Linked DNA regions of Homo sapiens: all the other regions are linked to region 3. The links come from fine-mapping of genetic effects on gene expression. A gene starts in region 3. Each other region holds a variant in brackets. All regions are shown on one strand. Distances are between the middles of the regions.

Region 1 (8,110 bases), 68 kb before region 3:
GGAAAAATAATCAAAAGATTATTTCCTGACATCTGAAAATTACATGAAATTCAAATTTTAGTGTCTATAAGTTTTTATTGGAATGCAGCCACACTAATTTACATATTATCTATGGATACTTTTTTGCTATAATGGGAAAGTTGAGTAGCTGCTACAGAACCTGTGTATGTGTGTCTTGTTTCACATTGCCGCTTGGCAAGCTACAGAATCATGGTGATGCAGATATTACCTGAAAGCATTTGGAATGCCCTGTGTATTGCTAGATTTATTACTTTTTCTGCTACCAGTTCATGCCCTGTATCTCAGAACAAGAAAAGTACCTTTGAATGTTACACTTTCAAGGCACATTGGAATATGGACTATTTTATTATATGCTGGTACATTGTGTTTATAATGCAGTGTCACCATAACTGGTAAAAGAATAGACTGACAGTATCAGACTAACATCACAATATTCCCAACTGGTGGGAAAGCAACAGTCAGAAGAATTAGAAAATTTAAATGAAACATCACAGCAAAATTTCACAAAAGTAATAAAAATGAGGCTGCAACCAAAATGTTTACAAGTAGCCTATTTGTTAGCCAAGCAAAGAAAACCATTTACTAATGCTGAATTACATCGTGCTTGAAGATAGTAACCAACCCAAAGACATGTGTCCAGAGAAAATTAAGACATCAGCCCTTTGATGAGAACAGTAGTTTGAAGAATGAGGATTTTGGACACAACATCAAATGACACTGTTAATTCTTTGCCTCTTACTAGTCAGTACTGCCTAGCTTTATTTTTTGAGAAACCATTGCTGGATTTGAAGTGATCGAAGAATTTGTATGGAACTACAAGTGGGAATATTTTCAAAAAAGTTGATAAACAGTACAACCTGAAGTGGAATCTACTAAGATGTGATGCAACCGATGCTGGGAAAAATGCATGAAGCAGAAAAAAAGTTTATTTGGTCAAATTTTAAGGCTTGTGAAAACGTAAGTTGTTTAAAGCCTGTAGTTACTCACTTGATTATTCATCAGCAGGTACTTCACAGGAAATATTGGTGTTACTGAACTGGTCAACAGTTAACTTCATTTGCTCTTGTGGACTTAACCATCTTCAGTTCCATGATTTTTTTTTTTTTGTGAGAAACAGAAGCTGAATATCCTGATTTGATTTGCCACACAGGCGTTCAATGGCTTAGCAGTGCTAAAGATTTATTTTTATTTTTTTGGGCTCTGGGCTGACATTGAAATTTTTCTGAATGAGAAAAACCATCCTCAACCACTGTTTTTTAACACTGAGTAACTTTGGAAATTAACTTTTGCCACAGACTTGAAAATGTTTCTTAATGAATTTGACCTGAAATTACAAGGTACAACAACATAATATGGTAAATTCATTTCAATAAAAACTAAAACTTAAGATTGTCAAGCTGCTTTATATACTTTCTGTGCTATGAGAAGTCAAAACAGCGCTGTATTGCCAAATCCATTTTTAGTGGATATATTTTCCTGTAGCAGTTTTTTGGACCTTGATGCAGTGCAAAGAAAATTTTTAAATTTTAAAAGCATTTAACTGCAATTAAATGCTTTTAAAGTTTCCTCTTAATCTTCTGTTGGAAATGAATCATCTTGAATGAATGACATGCTAAAGGGCAAATACCAAAAAGATGAATCCTACAAATGCCTTACAAGTGATGAATATGCTTAACTAAAATCACATGCTCATGGGTGGATGTGTCAGTATTTAGCAGTACCTTGACCTGTTTGTGTGAAAAGACATTTTCAAAGATGAAATACGTGAAATCCCATTACACATCAGCATTAACAGATTAACATTTTCTATTTATTCCAATGAGGGGATACCAACTTTCAGCCCAAATTGAGCAAAATGTTACCTCCCGTCCCCTGCCAAAAAATCCCATTATTCCCATTAGTAGAACTCTATTACTAAAAAAAGAAAAAAAAATTGTACTCAATATTTTGAGTTTTCAATTTTTAGAATAAAAATTTGGTGAAAAGTTTCCTTGAGTACCTAAATAATGTCCTTCATTTTGTCTTAGCTTGCAAAGCCTCTAATATTTGCTACCTGCCCTTTTCAAAAAAAAAAAAAAAAAAAAAAAAAAGGCTTGTCCACCTCTCTACTAGAAGAAACTCAAGGGTCTATGTCTGTCCTGTTTGCTATTTCATCTGCATTGCCAAATGCAGTGGCTCCTCTGGGTAGGCAACCTGAGGTGGAATCAAATTATGAATGCATATGTTATCTCATGTCTATAAAATAAATGTGTTAGAATTTATAAATAAAGGGATAGGAAAAATGCTGATTATTCTGTGTGTCGGTGCTTTGTAGTGAAGGCCAGTTCACACATGCCATTTGCTATGTTGGTGTAATTTATATGAGAGTTTCTTTTATAACAACGTTACCTGTCATTTATTTTTCTATTAAGACATTATAGAAACGTAGGACTGTACACATCCAAATCCTGCAGAATTTTCATTTCAGGTTTTGAAAGTTAAAAAAATGTCACCATAGAATGAAAATTCCAAGAAAACAAGATTCATGTACATTATCACTAGACAATTTCCATTTGTTTTAAACAGTTTTCTACAGCATTAGTTACATTTAACGTTTAGTATAAAAGCAATTGAGCAATTTCTCTTTAGAAGTCCATTTCATTGCTTTGTAGCCATAGTCTGTAGGTGAATGAACAAGCTACATTTCTCCAGAATTACTCATTTTCTTTTTAAAGATAAACTGGTCAATACTCTCCTTCCTGGTATGGAGGAATTTTTTGTATATGAGAAGCATTCATGAATATAATCTGCCCTCTTGCTTTATTGTCATAGGAGGGGAAATTCACTGCTTTCACACCCTTCTGTTTTGGCTCTTTCTCCCAAAAGATAAGAATCTTTATTTAGTATCATACCAAGAAATTGGAGTTCCTTTAGCTTCAGACTATCATCATGGCTTCCAAATTGTTAGGAAATACAAGTTTGCAAGACCCCAAGGGGACTTAATATTTTACATCTTACTAGCCATGTCATAGGTTTTAAGTGCTTTTAATGGGGAACTGTTTCACTCATGCCATATACCTGTTTTGTTTTTCTAAAAAATTAATACTGTAAGTTGTGAGCAGGTGTCTTGTATCACTGCGAAACCCATGCATAATAAAAACTTGTTCTTGAGCTATATGTGTGTATACAGACTTTCCTTCCATTCATTGTAGCCATTCTGGGGCTGTCCTCTACTTCTTGCCTAAGTATATGTTTTTTAAATAACTTTAGCACATTTGCATGCTACTCCAAGATGAGTTTATAATTAAGGTTGCTTTTTAAAGTATTCAGCTTTCACACAATAAGTGTTTGATTAGTTCATTTAAGATGTTTTCAATTAGGGAGCCATACATACTGACAGAAAAAGACACAAAATCTAAACTGACAAAATAGCCTTGCTCTCATAACTGAGAAAAATACAACAGGAGAACTGACGCATTCTGTAGTATCTTTTTAAATTCAGAATCAACGGAATTTTACCTTGAAGCATTATGCGTTTTTTTTTCAATTGATTAAGCACCTTTATCAATCAAACAGAAGCAATATATTAAGCATTAATAATTTCAGGTAGGATTCAGCTCCTTGTACTGTTAAACCTTCCCCGGAAGATGCAACATAAATCATAGGTTTTCATAAACCATAAAGTAGTACTATTTTTCCTGAGCAAAAGGGAACTAGCCATAAACCAGGGCTTAAAATAACTTATTAAAAGTTTCCCTTTGGTTTAATTGCTACTCAAATCACTCAGATGATTAGCCTTAACAGACATTTTCCCCCAATTGTAAACAATACAGAAATACTGAATACTGGCTATGAACATCAAAAAGATCTATTTTTGAACATTTTTCACCAGTTTGTTTTTGCCCTCACTTTCCTGCAACAAGAAAGGTCTGCAAATGATTAAAAGTGTCTTCTGTTGGCATTGCCCAGGTTATTGTATTTGAACTTTTTGCTGGTATAAGAACAATTCTCAGCGGTGTTGGTGATTGAGCTATTAGATACCTGGACTGCATCATCATAGTTCTTTGCTCACATTTCAAGGAGACTATTTTGAGGAAGGAAAAAAAAAATGGGTGCCCTGTTTCAGAGTCTCCTGAAACACTCAACATTGTTCTGGGAGATACTTCATATTCATAGTTGATTCACAGGAGTCTCTTTGAAACAAGCCTACTTGATTTCATCCTTTCAGTGATGTCCACTGTTTACAAGCCAGGGCACTACTACAATAAAAAAATCTTATGGAAAAGAGAAAAGGAAAATGCATGGTTTGCAACATTATAAGGTTTAACAATTTCCTGTGTTCTGTAACAAAATAAGATCCTTTGGTAATAAATTCTAAAGGAAATCTGGTGGGGAACAGATTGCTCAGTTGTAAAATCTAGGTTAATGTTGGCTTCTACTTAATGCTTTTCATGGCGTTACAAGATCATATTGCTAACACTTGCAATAAAAAGTAGAATCTAGGAATTTTTACCAAGACAGTGAGAAAATTCTAATGGTATCTTTGTAAAAGAGTAATACTTCAGGTATGTAACATAGTCTCCTTCCACATATAAGAGGAAATCGGTGCTGAACTGGCTAAGTATGTGGAAAAGAAGTGTAAAACATTTGGGATTAAGCCACGTGGTTTTCTGCTTTAGAAGAACACGTTTCTGCAGAAAGATATTAAACACGTGTTATTTGTGAAAAATCCACTTGTTTAAATGTCACTTTGGTGAAAATATTCACAGATCAGAATCTGTAGTCTAGGTGTGTGGGTGGGATGGTTGTGCTGGAGGACACCATCATGATTTACAACGTAAACTGCTTTGCATTTACCATTTTCTGAGGTTTGTATCTATGTTTGATCAAAGGTATCAGAACCATCACTTTTACAAACAAGTATTTGACCATATAAGTAAATACCAAATGATACAGTACAATTTCAGAATCAGCCGAGCCCGTTTACATGCATTTCAAAATAGGGAAAATCTGCTAGTTTATAACA[T/C]AATGGAGTAACACTTTTTTCATATATTTTCTTGAAGCATGAATCACATGATTGCGTGCCTAATTTTTTATAAACATGATTTATATCTTTGATTTCCCTAGTTAAGTGTTTGTCAACATATGCCATATTTCCAATAGTTGTCTATTGATTACAGTGTAGTTGAGTTTTATAGTCTGTTTCTAATTGTCCTCAGAATCACTTAACTACTACAAAGTAAATACCTTATTTTCTCACCACCCCTCCCAAGACCTATGTTATGGCCACATTGAAGACATGAATTTTGCCATTAGTAGCTCTAATAAACTATTAGGAAAATTTATGCTTAAAATAATTTACATTGTCAGTGCAAAGGCAGTTTCTTATAGACAGATAATGTAGGTGATCAACCACTTTATTAGGGTATATTAGGAGTGAATTCATGGATATGAACTTCATTGAATGCATCATGATTATATTCAGATGCAACTGTTCTTTAATATATCTTTGAAATAACAATCCTCTTCCCTACATAATAGCAAATAACTAACGTATATGAAGCATTGGTACACTATTTTTAATGCAAAATTTCTTAAATCTTGATTCCTATATAGTAAAATCTATAAAAGCAAGAAAAATCAAAATTATCAGTTTAATGGACAATAAGGACAGTTGAAGTATGTGTCTTCAAGTTCGAGTTAAGCCATTAAATTTTTTAAAGTAAATACTTAAAGGTAAATTTTATATAAATATGTACAAAATGTAGATCTATTTATTTAGCACTTTGTTCACTCAGATAAATTTATATTGCATATCTAATGAGATATGCAATCATCTCCAAAGATTATAACTCCTATAATTCAAAACAAAACAAAACAACCCTTTAAAGGTTATTCACTATATGAAAACAGAAAGGGAACAATTACAACAATGAAATTGTTTTAACTTTTTCAAATCTGATTCTAATGTGTATTGACATATATTTAATTATATAAAAGACTGTGGGAAAGGGGCATTAACAGTACTCTAGAAGAGTAAAGGATAAAAATCCCTCTTTTTCCCCTAGCTTCCAGTTTGACAAGAGGGAATACTTAATCGAATCCTGTCCACAAAAACAGCTAACAGTACTGTGCTTTGAAAAAAAAAAAAAAAAAAAAACAAACCTGACTTCATATAATTCTTAATACATCCTGTGCTGCTGTTGGTTTTTTTAAGACTTCTAGCAGTAGCTATAGGTTCCGGTCTGGCACTTTAGGTATTTTTAAAAATGACCAAAACGTGCTCTAAAATGAAAGTTAAAATGTTATCATATTTTCTGAGATTTCTTGAAGCAGATTGTCAGATGAAACTCTTCAGCATAATACAAATCTGTGAAAGACTGCAGATATTTCTATTGTTCAAAGAATTGCACTCAAACTATAAAATGGACTTGGCTGACATTGTTTCTTCCATAAGCACAATTAATATAAAACTATATTTTTAGGAAGGATAAGTAATTGCAATGATCTTTTATTCCATTATCCTCTGGCCTTCTAGTTTATTTTGTGTTGAATGTTTGGTTTAACAAAGATTTTGAAAAGTTTATTACCATTTTCTCTTTGATTAAATACCAATTACTTAGTTGGTCCAGTTTTAAAAGGTAATCTGCTTTAAATTCTCAAAATCAGTATCAAAAAAGCATACAGAGTATTATTCTAATTGTTAACATTTACATGAATTATACTGGACTCAAATAAAAAAAACTTTTTTTAAATAGTGCATACAAGGCACAAGAGCTTATTATATTTACTGAAGCTGAACATTCTGGCATCAACACACTTTAGTTTATCTCAAACTAAATTTCCAAATAGCATGCCATTTTAGTTCATGTTGAACTAACTTTCCAAAAGTTGTATGATTTTTATTTAATGATTTGCATAATTTAACTGTAATAGGTGTTTAAGGAAAAATATAGTTTACCTGTCATCATTTTGATGAGACGAGAAAGAAATAATATAGATATCACTGGAGGGTAAATCTATTGACCTATTAGGAATTCTTAAGAGAAATTCAATAGTTTTACTATGTTCAACAGGAGAAATAATCTAAAAAGAGATTTTTAGAAAGCCAAACTGACAAAAGAATGTCATAAAACAATCTTCATAATTGCTATCATAAATTTCCTCCCAATTTAACAAGAAGAGATGAAAATATATTTCTGATGTAATAGAAATGTACCGTATTCTGACAAAAGTATTCCAGCCAACTGCTTTGAGAGCTCAAGCTTCAATGTCCACACTTATTTTCCAGCAGAAAACAAAAGGCTGGAATTAAGTGAGGCAAAAATGGTTGATGATCTTCAACTGCAGGCCACCTGGACTCTGTAATGAATTCATAATTATTACAGTTCACTCAGTCTGAGGCTGGATTCACATCAGAGGAAAAAAAAGAAGTATGGTTTGCCACTTCCACCTTCTTAAAGGTAACAAGTTTTATGAATAATGCTTATCATTATAATGTGACTTGAAATCTCTGAAATCCTAATATCTTAATAGTCTCAATTTTCAGATTCGGAAAATCAGATGATTAATGGAGTTTCTATGTGATAAACTGTGCTACCCATATATTTGGGTAAAAACTGGTCCTTGGATTTATTCCAAGTTTTTTGGAGAAGATGTTTTCCCCGTTGATTAATAAACCAGAACTACTTTTAATATTTAATAGGAATTTGTGTTAGTTGTAACAATGTGTGTATTGGATCCAAAACATGTTATATTTTAAGCAATGGCTTGGAGAGAACTAATCAATTCATATTCTGCATTTCCAGCCAAAGGGACATAGGCACAACTGACTGGTGGCACCTTCCTGTGGGAAGCCTCTTCCATCCATCTACAGCATTGATACCTTGAAATGAAACAGAAAACATGAAACTACTATGTTAACCATAAACACGCAAAACAAACCAACTCATTTCATAATCTGTTTCAATAATATCCCTCATTCAAAACTGTTTACTATGCTAGCAGGCTCAGTAGACGTGCTCTTGAATATGGAACTCTACATCAATACTGCTCAAACTTTAATATGCATATACGAAAGGATCCTATTAAAATGCAAAAAAAAAAATTG
Region 2 (8,110 bases), 52 kb before region 3:
CTAGATTTTTCTGCATTGAGGTATATGAAAAACCATAAACATTTAGCTCTGTGGGATTTTCAAGCCCAAATGCACAAGGCATGATCTAGTAAAAAACTCTGATGCCCATGAATGTCCCTGTGAAATATATACACTGGGCCCATTCACTAACTGGTAGGGTCTGGCCTGTACATAGCTCACTCTAGGGATGGGGTGACAAATACCTTTCATCTCTTTTGACAATTTAAAAGGATTTTAAATATAAATTCCTTTTACATTTAATTCCCAATTTAAAAGGGCAGAGGCAGGAGGATCGCTTGATCCTGGGCGGTCATGGCTGCAGTGAGCCATGATCACTCCACTGCACTCCAGCCTGGGTGACAAGAGAGACCCTGTCTCAAAACTAAAATGGAAACAAACAAACAAACAAACAACAACAACAAAAAGAACTTTAGAATGGCTACCAGGAACACTGCCTTGAGGTTTATGGGGTCACTCCAGGCTCCCTAGGAAAAAGTCCTGTGATCAGTAAGAAATGTTCAATATGGAGTGTTGGTGTGGATACTGTGTATGTGGCACTGCAGCAACTAAGAAAAGCTCTAACGTTTAATGAAGAATGATATTATGGTTATGCTTTTGCTACTGGCTTTCATTGAAAAATCAGAGGAATGGTTATACTCAAATCTGTCACAAAGGTATAAAAACTGGTGTTTCAAACCACTGAAAATTCATACATAGCATTTTAAAAGTTTAAGTAACTTTTCCTTTTGCCAGTTGGTAGCACGTTCAGAATGAAATGTCAGGTCTTTCTCTGGCCAGCCTCAAATTCTTGATAGTCTGGAATCAAAACAAACTTAAAGCTGGAGCAAAAGTCTCCAGACAATGAATTTCTAAGACTCTGGCTTCTCTCTCCACAGAAATGGCTCAGATAATCCTTAGAGGTCTTCCAAGGGCACTAAGTCCATAATATACATTAAAATGGAGTTGTCAAGAAGGTGTCTGGGGGTCCATTTGATCTCCAAAAGCCTCAAGTTTCTTTACTCTAACAGTTATCACAGAAAGGAAAGATATGGTGGGTCAGGGGCGATTTTACCCTGTCTGCCTACCTGAGCAGTGGGTAGCTAATTTTGACTTACATTTTTTTTTCTTTTAAGCACTACATTTAAAAAATATTTCAGTCAACCAAAATGTATAGACAATTAACACCTTTTTACTCACACTTAGATTAATAACACCATTTTACAAGTATAATTGAAGCTTCCAATGTATCCTCAATCATACTTTCTTTTTTCCCTCATTTCAAGTGGAAACCATTGCAGTAAATTTTCTTATGGTCTTCATTTTTTTTCAAAGGAACATATAACCAAAAGACACAATATGGTAAAATATCTTATTTGAAAGTAAAATGAAAAAAAATATGAGATTACTTTTTAGCTGTGGAATTCAGCCCTGCAGGAGTAGATGCTTGTTCAGGATCCTGGTTAACAAGGCAAGTTGGAAAGGAGCAGCCATCACCTAGACTAGAATTAAAATAAAAATTTAGAACTGAACCATACAAAAGACAACGGAGTGAAACCCTGCCAAAATGCTGATGTCCGAGAGCAGAACATGCTATACTCTAGGCAAAAAAAATGTGTATTAGACATTGAGCTCAACATAGTGTTCAGGAAGATGATGAATTAACTGACTTCCACACTGATATTATGGTGAATCATAGAATAATATTTTTTAAAAATAAGAGTTCCTACACAGAATTACAAGCCTATGGAACTAGAGGCTTTTCCTGAAACTATCTTTTGCTGTATTATTTTCATTAGTTTAAAGCCTGAAAATTTTAACAAAGAAGTACCTTGAAAAAATGGGTAGCAACCAGTACTTCTTCTCATCACCAAAAACTTGTCGCATGTTTTTACTGAAACCCAAGCTGAATCCATTCTTATCTGTTCCATGTCGAAATACTGGACTTCTGAATGCCTCTAAAAAAAGATGGTAAAGGAATCACATGAGTAAAGAACATATTTACTAGCAATCCTGAATATTTATCAATAATTGAAGTAAATGAAGAAACTCTGAAAATCAATGGCTAGCTGACTGTGAGGGCTTATGTGCCTGTCAACAGCCCTGAAATATAGGGTGTCCATTCTGTTTTAAAATATCATAAGATATACCTATTTTAATTTTAAAATATGCCTTTTTATTATAATAGTACATGTGCATTGTAGAAAATCAGAAAATACAAACTAGCAAATAAACTAAAACTGCATCTTCTGGATCTTTTGATCAATAGATAGATAAATGGATGGATCCATAAACATAGATCTACAAATCTACACGTGTATTTTTTAAGAAAACCACAATCAGACTATCTTTTACATACATTCTACAACCTTTGTTTTTAAGTAAATCCATTTGTTTATTTTTGAGTCAGGGTTTCACTCTGTTGCCCAGAGTGGAGTACAGTGGTATGATCATAGCTCACTGTAGCCTCGAATTCCCAGGCTCAAGCAATTCTTCTGCCTCACCCTCCTGGAGCAACAGGTGTCATGCCACCATGCCTGGCTAAGTATTTTCCAATTTCGTTGAAATTGGTTCTCATCTAATAAAATTTTTCCAGCTGACTATAAAATCTACTTTTAAACTAGTTTGTCCAAACCGGGATCCAGTCCAGAACCATGTATTGCATCTGGTGATGCTCATTCTGCCTATCGAAGCTGGTTCAGAGAGGCTCTGGGACTTGCCTAAGGTCACACAACAAACACACGACAGACTGAGACTTGAATAAGGTCATCAACATTCCTTCAAAAATACTACATTTTCTTCTTGAATCATGCTGAAATACAAAATGTAAAATGTTGTTTTTGGAATATGAACATGGAGGTATAATGATTTTTCTCCATTAAAAAGAAAAATCTAACCAGCAGAGTTAGGCACTATGAAAAAATGTGGTCATTTGCAAGATCCTTAGCATTCTTCATCCTAGGATACATAGCTTTTTCTAAAACATTTCAAAGGATCATATTATCCAGGGGAAGTCCTTTCAGTGCTACAAGTTAAATCTAGAGGTTTCCAGAAGTTAAAAACCTCTAGAAACAATAAATTTGCTTTTGATGAATTACAATTTAACTGCCTAACACATAATTTGAAATAAAATTCCTGGGCTTAGAAATTACTTTATCAGTATTTTCACCCTAATAGTATTTGGTGTAATGATTTCATTTGAGAATTCCATAATGTTTCATTTCAAAATACTGAAAATGAACACTAATTGACTACCCACTGTAATTAATCCTCATTGCATATTATAATAACTGAAGCTCACAGCTTGGAGTGTCCTTTATGATCATCAGCATGTGTGGTCCTGGTTGCATTCCCAAACTCCTATCCTTGAGCTAGAAACTCTACATAGCTTAGTCCTTGCTTACCTCTCCAACCTCATTAATGTATTTCTCAATCTTTAGCTTTCTATGCTTCAGCCACATGGAGTGTTTCTAAAATATTCCTAGTGCCCCTCATTAGACTGTTTTGCCCCTGCTCACCACTATATCTATATATCTATATGCCACTATATCTATATATCTATATATAGATATATATATAGTCTCATATATATATACATATATATGAGACAATCAATAAATATATGGAATGAGCAAACCTGTATGTGTCTAAGCGACATATCAAAAAAACAATGAGGAAAATAAGAATGACTTTTCCCACCACTTCAGGGCAAGTTGGCATTTAATCACATAGCAACTGTCAATGAATGTTGGTATACGTATTTAAAGTTCTGTCAACTACAATAATTGGATACTCACCTAATGTAGATTTATTTTTGCTGACTAGCCAACAATGATAGCCAAACAGAGAAGACAAGCTGACAGAAAACATAGCTGCAGCAAAGAATAAAAACATAATATGGAACTTGGCTTGAGTATCAGGTAGGCCATTCTATAAAGAAAGGAAGAAAATAACATGTTTTGTCAAAGGGATATGTATTCCCCTACTTTTATAAGTAAATTAGTAAGATTTTTTTTTTTGCTTAAAATTTTTCTTAAATTTAATATAAAAAAATGTGGCTTTATGTTAAAACTTTAGGAAAAATATGCATATATTTCATCAGGTTAAAAGTTTACGAGAATATGAATATATATGAAAATGATATTAAAATTTGGAATATAAACTGTGTTTTTCATAACCAAATCATAGAAAATTTATGGTAGTATATGTATAAACTGTAATACGAAGCAAGATAAATGGAACTATAAAATGTAGTTTTAAATTTATTAACGGAGTATGTTTTGTTAACATACTACAGAATCACAAACGTTTAAATAGTTTCATTATAATGCCAGAAAATGAAGGCTAACTGGCACAATTTGGCTACTATCCTTATTGATGTTTTATGTTACTACAAACAACAGCATCAACTAAATGAATACATATAACAACACATTCACAATAATGCTTCAAGCTATCTTAAATAATAGCACCACAGAAAAGATCAACACCAGTGCATAACACCTGTCTAAAATAAATGTTAATATCCATGGGCTGAAACAGTCC[A/G]TCTCAAAGAAAACCAGTTAGACTCTCATTCTCTCATTGTTTATAAATCCAAAGAGACCTGGAATGGCTCTAGAATGGAGGGCTTGGGGCTATGGACACCTATCGAAGCACCATGGCTGCCACGAGGTGTCTCTTCTGATAAATGGTCCTGAGATTCCAATACCCTGTCGTCCCTGACCAAATGACACCGGTCACAAGACCTCACTGACAGTTTTCAACAGCAGCAGGTTTTTTTGACAGCGAAAATTCTGGTCATTCCTTTTCATATATGTTTGTGGTTTGAAACTAAAATCATCCACAGGAAGGAGGAGCAGTGAGGTAATGCTCTCCCAGACATTCATTACGGTTCATTTTTCAAGCTGGACACTGAAAGAATCCTTGAATGTTAGCAGCAGGTCTCTTCACTCATGTCTTTCTATGCTTAGCAATAGAATTGGCACACAGTAGGCATTCAATAACTCTTTGGTATTAAATTTGGTTCAAATCTCACATAAGTGATCTAGCAATTTAGAAATTCTTACCATAATAAAGATAATTTAATGAAAATAATACATCAATCCTGGCAGCAGATAAATTGCTTTTTTACTGTCATTTGGTGTTCACAAGGAGGACCTGTGGATATCTTAAATCCTCAATTTTAATTTCTTTTTGCCTACATTTAAAATATATAGTGTATAAAGCATAATCAAGAAATACCGAATAAAAATTCAGGATATTATAGGCATAAGGACATTATAGGCATGATAGTTTAAAAAATAATCTTCTTACACATAAAGAAAATACTTCTATTTTTAAATCCTGAAAAAAATCTTATATAGTCATCAATTCTCGTTATTTGCAGTACTTATTTTTTATAAACTTTCCACAAACACTGAACTTGTGAACACTGAAAAACTGCTCCTAGGGAAGATACAGGGTTAGGTTTCTATGAACCTCTGGTCACAACATCTTTGACAACTGATCAGTGTGTAACCTTGTTTTATGTGTGTTTCTACTTAAACGCACCTTATTTAATATACATTATTGATTTATTAATATAGAACTCATAGCTAACAGTACTATAACTCATGCCTGAATCAAGCTTATCTAATACACCTATTTTCTCCATAACACACATCGGTTCTCTTTTGTTTAGAAACATTAGACCACACTTCAGCACTACACTTTAAGATTTTTTGACAGCAAAATCACCAACAAAAAGCACAAAAATGGAAAAAAGCATGGCACTAAATAGACTGTGGAAAGCACACTTGTTTATAGTATGAGAGCTGAAGCAAGAAGGCAAAAGCATCGTCTTGTTCAACCTCAACTGGGAATGGGCATGGGGGCAACTCAATGTTTTTGCCACTCTGCACATGTCTGCAGATGACGAAAGCTGTCAGTATCGATGTGGGGGTTACAATTACATCTTACTGAATTAACAAATAAAGAATCTGCGAATAATGAGGACTGACTGCATGTCAATGAGCTCTGGTCTATAAAGTCAGTGTCGGAAATAATTCTGTTCTGAAAAGCCTATATTATCTATTATTGTATACCAAAAAAAGAGTTACCAAGTTAATGACTTACTGTCCAAAATTTGATAAAATACTGTAAATCTGTTGCCGCAATAAAAAGGCAGTAGAGCAGAGAATAAGCCAAGAAAAGGAGAAAGAACTTATAATTTGAAAATCCAACACAATTGTTCACCCTGTTAACAAAACAAAAACATTTCCAGTGAGTTTTACATCTTCAACCTACATGTGCATATGCTCAAGCAAGTGTTTAGCTTCCTCTCACTTCTAATTTATTGGCATTTCTTTAAATATAACTCATAAGATTTCTTTATGCATACAATCATGTAAAAATCCATTTCACTAAAAAATCTGCTTCTATTTTTAAAACATGATATTTAATATTGCTTTAGTCAATCACAAACAATGTAACTGCATGTCATCTCAAATTACGCAAGTATGCACATCCCTCAAAGCACAGAGCCTGCGAGAAACCGTATCAGGCCAGGCAGCTTAGGTGAATTTACTAAACCCTTCCTCTACGCCATCTTTGGGTTTGATATCCAACTATGATTAATTAAGTTACAATTTTTCAAGTATTCCCAAATTAGATGGAATATCTTCACAAATTACTCTTTGCATGCCTTCATTGAAGCAAGCGGACTGTCAAAGCATATTAAATGGGAGCTTTAAGAAAAGAAGTAGGCCTGGCAGTTAGACAGCTGGGTCAGAAGGCCCATTTGACACTAAGTAATGATGTGGCCCTGAGGAAGTGAAATCATCGATTAGAATTTCATTTTCTTTATCTGTAAGTAAAACACTCTGAGGTCATTTCCAAAAGTCGGCTCTAAATATGCTATAATTCCAAATATGGAAATTTATAAATCTCAGTTCTCACTCCAAAGTCGTTATCTGAGGGGGGACAAATCAAACTATTGTATCAATAAACCTAAGTACAAATACAATTCATTTTTATAGGCTCACTTTCTTTTTGTTAAGATTTTTCTTTTTTAAAAAATTATTTATTTATATTTTATTTTACTTTAATTTTTGGGATACAAGTGCAGGTTTGTTAGACAGGTAAACGTGAGTTGTGGGGGTCTGTTGTATAGATTATTTCATCACCCAGGTATTAAGCCTAGTATCCATTAGTTGTTTTGCTTAGCCTTCTTCCTCCTCCCACCCTCCTCCCTCCAAAAGGCCCCAGTGTGTGTTGTTCCCTCCTCTGTGTCCATGTGTTCTCATCATTTAGCTCCCACTCATAGGCTTATAGGCTCACTCTCTTTCTATCAAAGTTTTTGATTTCCTTTTCATAAAGACAAGGGCACTACTGGATGACCTTGTGTCAATGTGATACATCACCCATGTGGAATTGGCTAATACCTTCATGGGTTGAGTAACTTCTTGGTTAACCGGTATAACGAACCTATTAAATAGAACATACAGGTTTCCTTTTCTAGTATTCAGCCTATTGCACAGAACATACACATATTGTTTCCTTTTCTCAAACGTTCTTGTTCCCCTTCTAACGTAGGTAAAAATCATCTCACTCTCCATTGACTTAGCTACTAAGATGAAACACTTTTCTTTCTAGATTTGTAAAAATGAAACCATGTTCATGTGAAAAAAATGTTTACATCATCTCCCTCAAAAAATATAAGGTAAAGGGAATAGCATTAGATTTAGTAATTTGTAAACTTAAAGGTCTTACATATGGGCAAATAATTTATAAAGAAGCCACAAGTTGGCTGGGCGTGGTGGCTCACACCTGTAATCCCAGCACTTTGGGTGGCCGAGGCAGGCAGACCACAAGGTCAAGAGATCAAGGCCATCCTGGCCAACATGGTGAAACCCTGTCTCTACTAAAAATACAAAAATTAGCTGGGCGTGGTAGTACACGCCTGTAGTCCCAGATACTCGGGAGGCCGAGGCAGGACAATCGCTTGAATCCGGGAGGTGGAGGGTGCAGTGAGCTGAGATTGCGCCACTGCACTCCAGCCTGGCAACAAAGGGAGACTTCCTCTCAAAAAAAAAAAAAAAAAGAAAAAAAAGAAGCCACAAATTGTGCGTGCACA
Region 3 (8,110 bases):
TAAGAGAAGGAAAGGATGGAGGGGGAGGAATACAAATAGAAGAGCCTCGTTAATCAACAAACGAGATAAACGTGGTCCAAATGATTAGAAGTATAACTGTCTTTTGTGATCTTTTCTTTGGCAGAATAGGAAGCTGACTTAACCAAAAATACTTGACTCTCACACAATATATGTACATCCCATATATTTTACATATACACATATTCCAAAAAGAGAGGTTATTTTTATAAAATACAAACACTAAGCAAAAATTATGCTAACTGAAAAAGTGCCTAGAGAGCCACATACATCCACGTTGTTAAATATAGAAACTAACTGTAATGAGAATCATTATCTCCAGTTTCCAAGGATACCAGGATAAGCACTACTCCTAAATTGCAGTTCATTCAGCAAAGGGCACAGAATAATTTATATTCAGGGTCATCCCTAGCTGAGAGCAGATGTGGAAGGAGGACCAGGGTAAATCACCTTGTTTCTTCTATTCCATTTGCTACCTGATCCAGTTCCCAGCCCTCGACCCCCACACTCTGGTCCCAACCTTGGCCAATGTTTTATGGAAGAAATTTGGAAAATCTGCTTGTAAATGGCAACTTCCAAGAGAAAAAGAATCTTCAAAGGGCAGGGCAGTCTGAGATGTGATTAATACTGGGGGTAGGGTGGGGGCTGGTATTTCCATTTGCTTTGTCTGTGAAAAGGAAAGGAGTCTGGGAGTCTGGTTTTGTGTGTCAGTCACACTAGTCGCCATCTTTCCCAGTGCCTATAAGGAAATTTCAACTTCCCACTCGACCAAGGCTATGCAAAGCTTGCCACTCATAAACTGCCATGGTCTCTAGAATCAAATTCAGCTTCAACTTGTTCTTCCTTCTTAGACTCTAGAATCTAGATCTTTCATAACAATTACTTTTTGTTTCTACAGCAATAAAAATATAAAAGCTACTTTCTGAAAACCTAGGAGATAGTGCCTCTGAATCATTTATTTGTTTATTCAAGACCACTTACTGTTGTTTTCAATGTGGCAGGCATTGCGCCAGGCCAGGCAGACAGGCATTACGCCAGGCAGACAGGCATTGCGCCAGGCAGGCAGGGACAAGAAGTGATAGATAAGGTATCAATAACAGGCCACGCCACTTAGGCAGTTTAAAAAGAGGCATTCTTCCTCTTAGTCAAATCGTCACTTACTAAAATACTGATGCGGATTTTATGGATACTCTAGATTTGTCTTAAACTTACAGAAAGTACATATAAACATACGATTCAGATATAATACCAATTTTCCATTTAGTTCCTTCCCCATCACCTGTCTACCCAATACAATAATAAGATCTGCCATATAGCACCTCAGCTAGGAGCAGACATCCTTCTAACGGGCAGAAGAGCTCTCTCTGCCTTCAAATGCTTCCTCTTAATGGACAGGAGACACTGTACCAAGATAAGCGTCTTAGCTTAATGTGATAATACAGGAGAATAGGCTATTTTGATAATGAAGGCCTTCTAGGATGTCCCTTCTTTGCAGGTTATATTAATCGATACTGGTCACTGTTTTTAAGAGGACGAAGGAATGAAACACAACAAAGGTTCCCAACAGTTACGTAACATATACAGTCTATCTCAATAAGGCAAGCTATTTTAAGATTAACAGTTAATACAAAATTTACTACACGTCCTTTCCTATATATTTTAGATGACTTGACGACTGCATACCTAAATGCATCCTCATGATAATGCCTGTACAGCCTCATCTTTTCCCAACAACAGACTCAAGGTTTTTTTTTTGGACTATTAAGCTTGTTTCTAAATCCCTTCAAGTAATAACAGCAAATTTTAAAACTATATGAAATAAAAGTCTCGGTTCTCTTACAACTTACATCAGTGATTATTTTGATGTATTATTATGACACTTTCTCACAAGGCGCAACATTTTGAGGTAAGATGGCTTCAGACAAGATTTTATGTCTGAATCTTGAGGCTTTGAAAATGCTGAGCTTGTGAAGGCTCAATATAATAGGCCACTATTTCATCTTTTCCCTCGTCCCACCCAAAGCTAGCACTTGGTAGGGCAAAAACAGACACTTTGTTAGGTGGAGCACCAAACACAGAAAGCATTCACAAGTCACTGGCAGAAAGGTCATTTTCTGTTTTAACATCTTTTTCTGATAACCCAGATCAGTTTTCATAAAACCCCTGAAGGTAGAAACCAGCTTACATTAAGCGACATCATTGTACTCCCTACTTGTGCATAATAATCAACTTTTTAAAAAATTTTAATCTTCAGCATTAAAAGTATCCTACCCACCAATTCAGGAACCTCGAACTCGGACTGGAGCCACTTCGCTCTCTGGATGTAAAAACCTCAGACGATCACCTCTTTTTTTCTCTCCCTACTGTTCAAACACCTAAATTATGGTTTAGTGTGTTGCACATGTCCTCAAAAATACTTTCTAGTAGCTCACCTCCTCCACATCCTTTTAAACTAGAAAAGTGTCCAACTGGCAATCCTCAAATCATAAAGGCAGCAAAAACGCCCCTGAGCGCTGTCACAAATTTTTAACAAGTGCATTGACGCCAACCAGCAAGGGATCCAGCTCCGCCGCCAAGGCCAGCACCCCCGCGCGGGTCTGGCGCAGCTCGGGGCCGGGCCCAGCTCAGCCCTTCAGCCCCCGGCGCGCCTCGCCGGCCTCGGCCTCCCCTCTCCACAGCGGTCCCGGGGACCTTCCGCCCCTCTAGGGGGTGTGGCCGAGGCGGCGGCGGTGAGCGGAAGGCGGCGGGAGGCTCGGCGGCGAGTGCGGGGCGGAGGCGCCACCTTAACCCGAGAGTTGGGAGGGGAGGGCGAGGGGCGTGCGCGTGGAAGAAGCTGCCCCGAGGCTGCTTTTAGCGGCGGAGCCGGCGGGACGCGGCAGGTTGGCAGCGCCCGGGGCGCATCCGGGGGGCGAGAGCGGAGGAGCGGCTGAGCGTCCCGGGACAGTCGGGGTGGGCTGCGCTGCGCTGGGGGCGCCGCGGCGGGGGGCGCACTCACCTATGCACAGCTGGATGGCGTAGGCGTAGTAGGACCAGCCGAGCAGGAGGGTGATGAACACCACCGGGATCCAGTACAGCACCCGCCGGCACCGCCGCCTGGCGCTGCTGCCCGGGCCCGAGGGCGCCATCTTCCAGCCGCATCCACCTGCCCAGCTCCGCCGCCGCCCGCGGGCCTGGCTCCGGGGCGGGCTGGGCGGGCCCGGCACCCCTGGCTGGACGGGCTCCTGGGCGGCGGCGGGGTGCGCTGCGGCCACTGCCGCCGCCGTGGCGCTAACTCCCCATCCCGCAGCCCCGAGCCGGCGCGGCGGACTCCCGGCTCCTCAGCCCGGCGGAGGCGGAGGCGGCGGCTGCGAGCGGAGGCCGAGGAGGCGGAGGGGGGCGGTGAGGCGGCGGCGTCGGGAGGCTGCGCTCCGCCCCCGCCGTTCCCCGCCGCCCGGCCGCCTCCCCTGGCGTGGCAGGCTGCGCCCTCGGGCGGGCTCTGCGGGGATGCGGGGCCCTCGCTCGGGCCACCTCGCGGGCTCCCACCGTGGCCCCGCCGCCTCCGGCTCGGCCTCTGGATTCCGGGGAGGCGGGGGCTGCTGGGCGCAGGCCCCCGGGGCGGAGCGGGCGGTGGCGGCCCCTCCCTAGGCGCCCGGCACCCGGGGCAGTTAGGTCGCGAGCGCTTCCGCGCTTGGCGCAGGGCGGGGGTCGGAGGCGAGGCCGGCGGAGCAGCTGCTGCGCTCGGGACTCCGCGCCTGCCGCGACCCAGGCGCCCTGAGAAAGTCTGCAGCACCGAGGCCCGCGTCCCCGCAGCCCGCGTGGAACCCTCGCGCTTCAACTTGCGGGTCCCTGGGAGCCCGCGGGGGCCGCAAGGAGCCTCCCTTTACTACTCGGGCTTTCGGGGGAAGCAGAAATGCACAGCGAAGAGGGGGTGCCGAGCCGGCGTCTGGCATGGGAGGGGCTGTGGAGAGCGAGGAAGAAGCATTTTTGGCTGTGAATCCAGGCACCTCTGGAGTTAGAAACACAAGTTCTTTGCTCTGAGAATGTTGATGCTTTGGATAAATGATTGTGACAGGGGCCGTTCCCACTGTCCCCTCCCTCAAGTACGGTGGTTCCTTCCACCAACTATTTATTCTTTTCCTCAACCCGCTCCTCACTACGGTGTTTACTTTCGTGGTGGCAATTCCAAACTTAGCAGATAGCTGACTCCAAAGCGGTTCCCAAAAAACACCGTAAGGGAACCTAAAGGTAGTCAGCCCAAACCTCTGATTTTATGATTCACGAAATGGAAAATAAACAAATGCCTCCTTTGCTTTTCCTTCATCTGATTATGAACGCACCTGATCCACAGGGAAACATTTCAATCAATGAGTGTGTGTAAATTATGTGCATCACTACTATACATAATAGGCACAATTTTTCTTAACATTAGTGAATATGTGTATTTACACCACACAGCAACCACAGTGAATGAAATTACTTCTTATTCATGTGTAGAAGTAAAAAAAAAATACTGATTTACATGAATTCAGTCAAAGAAATTTAGCTCTGGTGTCTGCGATTATCTTTCTGTGACTGGATTACACAACAAGCTAATCTCTCCCGAAATAGCTACTATGTTACAGCCCCCCACCCCACATCTCTTTCCATTTCTCTTCAAAAATGCATAGAAAATGTCAGTCAAGTTTCTGTGGGACTTTAAATAATTGAAAAGAGAGACATATTATGTCCCAGTGAATCACTTGATTTTGCTGTAGCCTTTTATATTCTCTGTGGATATTCTGTATATTAATGTAAAAATAAAACTTCTCTGGATTCCTTAATGTTTTCCATGAATATTAATCCTGTGTTCCCCCCCAATCAGAAGAGAGTAAAAAACAGGAATTAAAACTTCCTCCTGGGACTGAAATACCCTCACAAAGAGAAGCAAATCAGTGACTGAAGGTCAATAGAGACCATCAAGGTATGAAAAGGAAGGAATCGGATTTTCCATACTGGAAACGGTGGAGAAAGTGCAAATAGTGCCTCTGTAGATCCTGGATGCGACGATGCCCTGTGCTCTTCCTCCTCTCACAGTCCTACAGGGTCTTGAAATCGGAAATGGAATAGCATTCTGCCCAGTTTTCACATCATCTACCCTTTTGGAAAAGTATGCAGGTGTCATATCTTTGAAGGAGCTACATTTTTATTACTCATCTAAGATGTTGTTTAATTGTTCCTATTTATAATAAATATTTGTGAAATATTTTCAACTTTTTTTTGTTATTGCCATTTTAAGGATACTACTATTACTGGGTTTTTCAAGTTCTCTTATCTTAAATACAGAAAAAGTCTGGATTAGGAAGAAGCATCTCCACAGCCACAAGATAACAGGATTGATCTCTGCGTAGTCTCTAATTAGGCATAAGCAGCACGCACAAATGTAAGCTCTTTGGTGAGTAGCCAATCTCTAGATACTAGTCTTTGATGAGAGTGGAAGGAGAGCTTTTATTTTGAGGTATAGAGAGCCTTTGATTTATTTTCTTTTTCTTTAGGACTACATAAACAGAAAAAATAATTTGAAGGTCATAGACAAGAAGAAACTTCACTAGAGACTTACTGTTTAGAAATACAGAAGATTCAACTCACGAATTTTAATTTAAATGTTCAATAAGCATAAGAAATTGTAGGTTTCATGTATAACTGTGATTAAACTGATATGACCACTTATGAAAAAGAAAGCCAGCCACAGCAAAGGAGGAAGAAGGCGACGCTAAGGAAGAGAAGAGACGAGCGGACAGCCAGGCAAGGAGGGGGGTGAGGGGAGTGACTGAGAACGGGAGAAAAGCCCCCTTGCTGGGTTCATCCAGTCCCTAATGACCATGACTCCATCCTCGCTAGGCCTCTGCCTGTATGCTCCTTGCACTCAGCGGTCTAGCAACATCATTCACCTCTCAAATTTTCACAACTCTTATTTTCAGTTCCTGCCCCATGAAGGAATCTCTCTTTTTTTGGGGGGGGGGGGCGGACAGAATTTCGCACTGTTGCCTGGGCTGGAGTGCAATGCCGCCATCTCGGCTCACTGCAACCTCCGCCTCCCGGGTTCAAGCGATTCTCCTGCCTCAGCTTCCCGAGTAGCTGGGATTACAGGTGCCCGCCACCGTGCCCGGCCAATTTTTTGTATTTGTAGTAGAGACAGGGTTTCAGTATGTTGGCCGAACTGGTCTCAAACTCCTGACCTGGTGATCCGCCCGCCTCGGTCTCCGGAAGTGTTGGAATTACAGGTGTGAGCCACCGTGCCCAGCCCAGGAACCTTAAACGTTCCTCCTCTCCCTCCAGCCCAGTCCCCCAAATTCTTGAGTTCCCAAACCTCAAGTCTGCCGTACTTTCATGATTAATACTGCTAATCTTCCTTCTGCCTGCAGATCCAGATTACCATTTTAACATAGTCCCTTGCATAGTATGAATCAAACATAGCATGCTAGCCAAACCCAGGAAGGCGTGGACGCACCTGCTGCTAGAGAACACAGATCCCCCTTAATGTTGCCTATGCCAACCTCATCTCAAGCTTTTCAGCCAAAACACCTACCAGAAACTATTAGGACACTTGCTTGATATTTACTCCTTCCTTTTGGAAGGGTTCTTAGAGGGCAACATTGCAACAAGATATGAGGTCAGTCGTATTAGTCTCATGTATATGAGACGTTGATTGTCTTGAGTTTGCTAAGAGGGTATGATACTTCACAAATACAAGGAGTTCTAAATCTTACAAGGATTGGAAGCAATGAAGCTGAGGTCTGGATCTATATCTTATTTACTAATGGCTCTCCCATCCTTACTAGAGTGGTCTGCATGAATACTGATAGATTCTCTTTCATTATTTTCTCAAACTTAATCTTATCACTCTTTTGGGGGAGAAGAGCTCTTTAGAAGGCAGCAGTCCATGACATCAGTGACTCCAGTGTCAATGTGCATGTTTATAATAGCGGTCAAAACATTCTCTGTGGGAGAAGAATAGCATGCCTAAACCACTTTTTGTTTCTGGAGATACATAAAATAAAAGAAAAGGAATCGCGCTTAGGGAATGTAGGAATGAAGTAATGCTTAGATATGTTTTGGCTGTCAGAGATTTATGTTTGCAATTCAGCTGTAATTATATTGAATAAAATGGGAGATAATTTCAAAAGCCTAAGGATGTCTCTGTATACAGTTGATTGGGTCGAAACACTGGGACAATGTAAAGTGGAGCAAACTGTCCCTGGCAAACCTGCCTTTCAGGCACACTAGGGCTTTCACGGTAGCATTAATGTGTCCTGCCACTAGATGGCAGGCACACACCAAGCAGTGCAGCAGTCTTCACCTTTTCTCCATAGATTTCAATAGTTATCAACTGTTAGCTTAAGCAAGGCAATTATAAATATGAATTATAACTTCATGAACAATTATATATCATTGTAACTAATTATAATTATGTTATAATTGGCCAGGCGCGGTGGCTTACGCCTGTAATCCCAGCACTTTGGGAGGCCAAGGCGGGCAGATCACCTGAGGTCAGGAGTTTGAGAGCTGCCTGGCCAACATGGCGAAACCCCATCTCTACTAAAAATACAAAAAATTAGCTGGGCGTGGTGGCGGGTGCCTGTAATCTCAGCTACTTGGAAGGCTGAGGCAGGAGAACTGCTTGAACCTGGGAGGTGGAGGCTGCAGTGAGCCAAGATCACGCCAATGCACTCCAGCCTGGGCAACAAGAGCAAAACTCCTTCTCAAAACAAAAAGTTATGTTATAATTATACAGTTTTTATATTATAATTTAATGGCTAACGATTAATAAAAACGACAACCCTATTCAAAAAATTTAAAAGACTTAAAGCATTTTTCTATATAGTAAATCGTTCTGATTCTGCGTGCACTTCTTTAGAATTCGCACTAAGGTCAATCTCTTTGGAAATAAAATAGGAAATTTTCATTGAAATAATATTTTTGCTTACACTGTTTCCCTTCTTTGCCCCTAAATGGGGAGGGGCACTGTCTATGAACCCAAAAGGTGAGCAGACATGTCCTTCCAGTGGACTGACACAGCTATACTATGGATCTCTAAGGGGTGATACAATGTCCGAAGTTCAACTGGAGATTATTA
Region 4 (8,110 bases), 37 kb before region 3:
TGTTTTTTTTTTTTTAAACATTTTTTATTTATTTTATTTTTTAGAGACAGGGTCTCACTCTGTCACCCAGGCGGCAGTGCAGTGGTGCAACCACAGCTCACTGCAACTTCTAACTCCTGGGCTCAAGCAATCCTCCACCTCAGGCTCCCGAGTTGCTGGGATTATAGGCACAAGCCACTGTGTCTGTTCATTAATGAGATATTTTATATATATTTTTCATACTAAGTCTTTGAAACCAGTGTGTATTTAATACTTAGAGCACATGTCAGTTTGAACTGGCCATACTTCAAGCGCTCAACAGCCACATGGGGCTAGCGGCTACCATAATGGACAGCACAGGTCTGAAGTCACAGAAGCTCTGGGCAAGTCTTGGTGGGTAAGCATCACTAGTCCATATACATCAGTTTTAAGACAACTGTTTAAGTGGATAGTTGTCAAATTACCTTAAAATATGTCCCAAGTAAGAGATTTGTTAATTTATTGCATTTGTAAGAAAATTTTAAAGATAGATAAAAAATTATACCAATACCTAAATGAAATTTTACATCACCTATATGACTGTTCTAAGTTTACGAAAAAATACATGTAAAAGTATTCATTTTATATTCATTACAGATACTGCTGCCTTAAATTAAATATAAATAGGAAAGTCTACAATTAAAACCTTAAACATGAGTACTACCATAAATCAAGATTTCAGCAGTTCCCACATCTTCACTGAGTCATAACTAAGTAGGCAGAACAGGATTAAAGTCAGTTCTGATTTCCTTGCGATCTCTGTGCCACAGTGCTATTCGTGTTTCCATTCTGTTTTATGGAATCACACAGGAAAGATTTAACAGCAATCCAAGAAATAACACAGCATTCTGAAATGAGTGTTTTACCATTTCAAGTACATAAACACACTTTCTTACAGTCACCTTAATGATGTTATTTGCATACCATTGCAAAGCACTCATTATCAACATTTACCTCCAGACATGGTCCTGGTATAGATGGGAAGATCCTTGGCTGCTCGCCTAAGAACTTCCTGATGGGCTTCTCCTCTTGGCTCTCTCTCCAACAAATCTTTCTCTGCATAAGAGAGATGGAACTGTGGAATACATTTAAATCTTAATCAGTATTTTCAAAGAAATTATAACATATTGGTCTTCTCTACCATACCCGGAAAAGGGTATTTATAAAATATTAATGGTATATTGTACATTCAAAGAGACAATAGAGTTTGAAACGTGGGCAAGTCTGTTCACCTCACAGGTCATTCATTTATGCATCTAGAAAAAGGGTATAATAATCATCATCATAATACAACTGTACCTACTTCCTCTGGTTTTTGTGTAACTCAAAAGGAACAGAGTACATAAAAATGCTTATAAACCGTAGAGTTCCAACAAAATATGAGTTACATTGATAGATAAGATGGCCCAATGAATAAACATAACTCAATGAATAAATTTTTCATTTAGATCATTAAGAACAAATGTAGAAAATCCATTAAGCATATCTTCTTACCTAAGTGAGTTTTAACTTAGGGATAATCCTTACATAAAATCTCCCCCAGCACTTCTAAAGGGTCTAATTATTTATTTTACTTCTTATACTGACAATTTTGCCCAGCTAATTTTAAAATATTTGAGAAAAAGAAAATTTGGGCTTCTGTTTAATAATATGTATATAAATACATATCTTCCACACAGACACACATACACCTGTATAAATTTCTATAAATGTGCGCCAGGAGACATGTACAAGAAAAATCTCAGTATCATTGTTTGAAATACAAAAAAAAGAACACAACTCAAATGTACATCAAAAGGATGATGGATAAATTGGAGTATGATATATCCAAATAATGGAATAGTACCGGCATTTAACAATTAATAAACTATAGCTGTGTATAGCAAAGGAAAGAACCTCAGTATACTGAACAACATAAAACAATCTTATAGAACATATATACAATGATTCATTCATATAATTTTAAAACCAGCAAGCTAAACAACATATACACTGTTGTTGAGAGATACATGCACATGTGATAAAATTATAAAGAAGAAAGAATAACAGAAACGCAGGATAGTTGTTAAGTTTTGAGGAATAAAGGGAAACAGCTGGGAGATGCACAGCAGAGATGGAAAATATGAACAATGTTTGACATACTGGCTCGGTGGCTGCTTAGGTGTTTTCACTTAATTATTCTTTAAGTAGTGCATTATATATACGTTCTTATATATTTTGTATATATATATATTTATATATTTATATATTTTGTATATATACAAAAATATGTATAAAATATTTTACAATTTAAAAAACTTTAAAAGTGATATGTCAGTGAAAGAATCTACTATAAAGACAGAGGCACACATATGTTTATTGCGGCACTGTTCACAATAGCGAAGGCTTGGAACCAACCCAAATGCCCATCAATGATAGACTGGATAAAGAACATGTGGCACATACATACCACGGAATACTATGAAGCCATAAAAAAGGATGAGTTCATGTCCTTTGCAGGGACGTGGATGAAGCTGGAAACCATCATTCTCAGCAAACTAATACAAGAACAGAAAACCAAACACTGCACGTTCTCACTCATAAGTGGGAGTGGAACAGTGAGAACACATGGACACAGGAAGGAACATCACACACCAGGGCCTGTCGTGGGGTGGGGATCTAGGGGAGGGACAGCACTAGGATAAATACCTAATGTAGATGATGGGGTTGATGGGTGCAGCAAATCACCATGGCACGTGTATACCTATGTAACAAACCTCCACGTTCTGGACATGTACCCCAGAACTTAAAGTATAATAAAAAAAATGCTAATAAGCCACTGATGGACTATTACATTTAAAAAATGGGAACAGGTACACTCTGAATACCAAAAAACACTAAAAGGTTTTTGACTGCAGTCTTTGGATCTGTGATGGCATCTCTGAACCCGGCCAGGGCCGGAGCAAACTCTCTACCCTGAAGGGAAGGACCCAAGCCTGGCTGACTTTGCTACCTACTGACTGCAGAGCCCTTCAGCCTTGAGCAAACGCAGATGGGGGAGGCAGGCAGTGGACATAATGGGCCTTGGGCGAGACCCAATGCTATCCTGACTTCGGGTCTGACTGAGCACAGTCCCAGTGGTGTTGGCCACAGAGGTGCCATGTCACCCCTCCACCAGCTCCCGGCAGCTCAGCAGAGAGAGAGAGAGGCTCTGTTTGTTTAGAAGAATATAAGGCAGAAGAACAAGAGTCGCTGCCTGGTAATCCAGAGAATTCTTCCAAATCTTATCCAAGACCACCAAGGCAGTACACATCTACCAGTCTGTAAGAACCACAGTATTACTGGGATTGGGGTATCTCCTAATGCAGATGCAGCTTAGATCACAACACCTAACCTGGAAAGCCTTCCCAAGGAGGACAAATACTAAAATGTATATGGAATCACAAAAGACCCAGAATAGCCAAAACTATCCTGAGTAAAAAGAACAAAACTGGAAGACTCACATTACCTGACTTCAAATTATACTACAGAGTTTAGTGTAGGGGAGTAACCTAAATAGCACGGTACTGGCGTAAGACTAGCATTCGTACACAGTAACCAAAATAGCATGGTACTGGCATACATAGACCAATGGAAAAGAACAGAGAGCCCAGAAACAAATCCTTACATCTACAGTAAACTCATTTTCAACACAGATGCCAAGAACATACACTGGGGAAAGGGCAGTCTCTTCAGTAAGTGCTGCTGGGGAAACTAGATATCCATATGCAGAAGAATGAAATGAGACACATATCTCTTGCCATACGCAAAAATCAAAATGGATTAAAGACTTAAATCTAAGACCTCAAATTATGAAACCAGTAAAAGAAAACGTTGGGGAAACTCTCCAAAGCATTGGTGTAGGCAAGGATTTCTTGAATCATACCTCACAAGCACAGGCAACCAAAGCAAAAGTGGACAAATGGGATCACATCAAGTTAAAAGGCTTTTGCACAGCAAAGGAAACAATCAACCAAGAGAAGACACAACCCACAGAATGGGAGAAAGTATTTGGCAACTCCCCATTTGATAAAGGATTAATATCCAGAATGTATAAGGAGCTCGAACAACTCTATAGGAAAAAAATCTAATAATCCAATTTAAAAATGAGCAAAAGATCTGAATAGACATTTCTC[A/G]AAAGACGACACACAAAGGGCAAACAGGTATATGAAGATGTGCTCAACATCCATGGTCATCAGAGAAATGCAAATCAAAACTACAATGAGTTATCATCGTACCCCAGTTCAAATAGCTTTTATCCTAAAGATAGGCAAAGGGCAGGTGCAGTGGCTCATGCTTATAATCCCAGCACTTTGGGAGGCCAAAGCGGGAGGACCATTCGAGCCCAGGAGTCTGAGGCCAGCCTAGGCAACATAGTGAAATCTCATCTCTACAAAAAATTAAAAAAAATTAGATAGGCGTGGTGATGCATGCCTGTAGTCACAGCTACTTAGGGGGCTGAGGTGGGACTATTGCTCGAACCCAGGAAGTCAAAGCTGCAGTGAGCTGTGATTGCAGCACTGCACACCAGCCTGGCCAACAGAGCAAGACCTTACCTCAAAAAATACCAATAAAGTAAAATAAAGGCAATAACAAATGCTGGTGAGATGGTGGAGAAAAGGGAACCCTTGTATACTGTTGGTGAGAATGTAAATTAGTACTACTACGATGGGTTTCTCAAAAAACTAAAAATAGAGCTACCATATGACCCAGCAATTCTACTGTGAGTATATACCCAAAAGAAAGGAAACAAGTATGTTAAAGAGATAATCTGCACTCCCATGTTTATTGCAGCACTACTCACAATAGCCAAGATTTGAAAGGAAACTCAGTGTCCATCAATGGATGAATGGATAATGAAAATGTGGTGTTTACTTACACAATGGAATATATTCAGCCACAAAACAAAGAATGAGATCCCATCATTTGCAACAACATGAATGGAACTCGAGGTCATTATGTTAAGTAAAATAAGCAAGGCAGAGAAAGACAAACTTTGCATGCTCTCACTTACTTGTGGGAGCTAAAAATTAAAACAACTAAACTCATAGAGATAGAGAATAAAAGGATGGCAACCAGAGGCTGGGAAGGGTAGTAGGAAACTTGGACATAAGTGGGGAAAGTTAACGGTAACAAAACCAAAAAAGTTAGAAAGAATGAATAAGGCTGGGCGCAGTGGCTTATGCCTGTAATCCCAGCACTTTGGGAGGCCAAGGCGAGTGGATCACTTGAGGTCAGGAGTTTGATACCAGCCTGGCCAACATGGCGAAACCCCATCTCTATTAAAAATACAAAAATTTGGGCCAGGTGCCATGGCTCATGCCTGTAATCCCAGCAGTTTGGGAGGCTGAGGTGGGCGGATCACGAGGTCAGGAGTTTGAGACCAGCCTGGCCAACATGGTGAAACTTCATCTCTACTAAAACCACAAAAAATAGCCGGGCGTGGTGGCAGGCACTTGTAATCCCAGCTACTTGGGAGGCTGAGGCAGGAGAATCCCTTGAAACCAGAAGGCAGAGGTTGCAGTGAGCCAAGATTATGCCATTGCACTCCAGCCTGGGTGACAGAGCGAAACTCCATCTCAAAAAAAAAAAAAAAAAAAAAAAAAAAAGAATGAATAAGACCTAGTATTTGACAGCACAATAGGGCGGCTACAATCAATAATAATTTAATTGTACATTTTAAAATAACTAAGAGTATAATAGGATTTTTTGTAACACAAAATACAAATGCTTGTGGTAACTGATACCCAATTTACGCTGATGTGATTATTACACATTGCATGCCTGTATCAAAATACCTCAGGTACCCCATAAATATATATATCTATTAGGTACTCACAAGTTTTTTTTAACTACAAAGAAATTCAGAATGTAAAGTGCTTGAATTGGTGTAACGGATTTTTCTCTTTTTTCTTTTTGCCTAGTCTTCATTTTCAAAATATAATTTAGTGCGGTTGTATTACTTTTATATTGAGAAAATCTTACCAATGAAAAACTATTATCACTTTAACAATCTTGCTATGAAAAGGGCAAATTTTAATTCACATGTTTTCAGTTCAGGATCCTCATTTTACAAGCGAGAGGTCTCTAACAGCTGATCAATTAAAAGAATAGCCCAAGACCTTGCGTTTTATAAAGGGAATATTCTAAGGTTCTTAACCACCAGACAAGGGCTCTTTCTTCCTAACAGTGGTCTCCAAACTCTTTTGATCATGTTCCCCTAACCGTAAAAAATTACGTGAGATCACACTGCTAACAGATGAGTATTTATTGGTATATATTCTTTTCTTTTCTTTTTTTTTTTTGAGACGGAGTGTCGATCTGTCGCCCAGGCTGGAGTGCAGTGGTGCGATCTCGGCTCACTGCAACCTCCGCCTCCCAGGTTCAAGTGTATTGGTATATATTTTATCAGCTAATAGCTTATGTACCTCATATACAAAACTTTAAAAAATAAAAATATTAAATGAATAATACGTAAAAAAATTTTTGCTATTTTTCCCCCATGCTTCAATTGAAGTCCTGGGCACTCCCACCCATTGTGCTTGCTCTCCATACTAGAGCATGGTGTAGTGAAAAGAAAGTGTCCTTAAGGGTTGAAAGGACTTTTGGTTGAACCTTAGCTCTCCCACACAGTAGCACTAGATACCTTAATTGTTTCATGTTCAAAGCCAGTGGCTCCATCTGTAAAATAGTAAAAAATAGTATCTATCTCAAACAGTTGTATGACTAAGGTACGTCTTTTGTAGAAAAATCACACAATGAAGCCTGATACCGTTATAATGTCACTGTCATCGATTTGACTGCTCCTTCAATGCTGTGTTCTTTCTTCCGTGTGTTTCATATCCTTTTGCCACTCTGTCCAATCCACTATTTCAAACCTTCTCTACTCTCCCAACCCTTAATTAACCCACTTAGGTCTTCACTGTTAGCCAATGATGTCATATATAATTTTAGAGAGAAGTTAGAAGTCACTTCAACTTCCTGCCAAGGCCATAAAAATAAACCTGCATGTGTATGAATAACTTCTTCCCTACTTTTAGTCACTTAAAAAGTATCTCTTGAGTACCTTCTATAGGTCAGACACTGCTTTAGGCACTGGTGATGAAGCAGTGAACAAAGATACATTTCACGCCCTTATGGAACCTACATTCTAACGATGGTGTATTTTCAAAAGTATTCAACAAATAAATATGCAGTGTGTTGCCATGATGGTAAATGTTATGGAGAAAAATCCAGGAAGGTAAGGTGCAGGGAAAGCCGAGGGTAGTGGGGTTGCTATTCTATGTTGAGTCATCACAGACAGCCTCAATGATAAGGTACCATTTGTATAAAGACATCAAAAAGGTGAGAGATTTGCCTTGTCTTTTGAAAGGATCACTTTGGCTACTGTGTTGAAAATACACAAGAGGAGGCCAAAAAAAAAAAAAAAAAAACATAACAAAACACCAAAAAAAAAAACCCAACAAAAAGAAACCTGTTAAGAGGCTACTGCAAATCTATAAATGAGAGAGGATGGTGGCTTGGACCGGGGTGGGAGCAGGGAGCAGTGCGGCACATGAGTTCACATTGTGGCCATACTCTGAGGGTGAGGGTATAGAATTTTCTGATTGACTAGATGTGGCGTCCGAGAGAAAAAGAGTAGCCAAGGATGACACCAATGTTTCTGGCCTGAACAGAAGAGTGAAACTGTCATTACTGACATAAGAAAACTTTAGGACTAGAAGAACTGGGGAATTAAATGAGAAATCAGAAGTTTGTTTTCAGTTGTGTTGAACCTGAAATTTCTATTAGATGTCAAATAGGGAGCTGGAAATGTGTCAGGCGTTTATTAGCAAGCACCAGGCTAATATATTAATCTGAGAGCTGCGGCACTGGGGTGACACATAAAGTCACAGAACTCAATGAAATCCACGAGGGAATAAATGCAGGTATATAAGAAGAGAAGTCCAGGGATTAAGCTCTGGAACATTCCAATGCTTTGGCAGTCTAGGAGCTGAAGAGGAACCAGCAAAGGAGGCCAAGAAGGAGCTGCCAGTATGAATGGAAAATAAATATATTATTTCCATGAGAAAGG

Alleles and levels. Positions count from the first base shown, and alleles are read on the strand shown. Sizes are in standard deviations (SD) of each study's normalised expression. Not every link is listed here.
For the expression in tibial artery of the gene that starts at base 3,385 in region 3, T is the high allele of the variant in region 1 and C is the other (small effect, 0.18 SD a copy in GTEx).

Evidence for each region. PIP is the estimated chance that this variant, and not a neighbour inherited with it, causes the effect. A credible set is the group of variants that fine-mapping cannot tell apart.
Region 1: its variant is the best candidate, but not a certain one, in a credible set for the expression of ZDHHC2 in tibial artery (GTEx, PIP 0.55).
Region 2: its variant is the best candidate, but not a certain one, in a credible set for the expression of ZDHHC2 in blood mononuclear cells (TOPMed, PIP 0.61).
Region 4: its variant is the best candidate, but not a certain one, in a credible set for the expression of ZDHHC2 in lung (TOPMed, PIP 0.77).

The regions. Positions count from the first base shown.
Region 1 is chr8:17,220,031-17,228,140 of GRCh38, reverse strand. It overlaps ZDHHC2 (zDHHC palmitoyltransferase 2), which reads right to left. Exons shown (of 13, transcript NM_016353.5): 13 at 3,342-7,885. It overlaps CNOT7 (CCR4-NOT transcription complex subunit 7), which reads left to right. Exons shown (of 7, transcript NM_013354.7): 7 at 1-3,175. Among named protein-coding and RNA genes, the nearest start is that of CNOT7, 23 kb to the left of the region's middle. The variant T/C (reference allele first, on the strand shown) is at 5,027.
Region 2 is chr8:17,203,777-17,211,886 of GRCh38, reverse strand. It overlaps ZDHHC2 (zDHHC palmitoyltransferase 2), which reads right to left. Exons shown (of 13, transcript NM_016353.5): 7 at 6,112-6,232; 8 at 3,795-3,927; 9 at 1,829-1,955; 10 at 1,407-1,499. Among named protein-coding and RNA genes, the nearest start is that of CNOT7, 39 kb to the left of the region's middle. The variant A/G (reference allele first, on the strand shown) is at 4,543.
Region 3 is chr8:17,151,757-17,159,866 of GRCh38, reverse strand. ZDHHC2 (zDHHC palmitoyltransferase 2) reads right to left here and starts at 3,385. Exons shown (of 13, transcript NM_016353.5): 1 at 3,014-3,385. The coding sequence starts at 3,143. RefSeq lists a silencer at 2,567-3,926.
Region 4 is chr8:17,188,487-17,196,596 of GRCh38, reverse strand. ZDHHC2 (zDHHC palmitoyltransferase 2) reads right to left here. Exons shown (of 13, transcript NM_016353.5): 4 at 973-1,093. Among named protein-coding and RNA genes, the nearest start is that of ZDHHC2, 36 kb to the right of the region's middle. The variant A/G (reference allele first, on the strand shown) is at 4,173.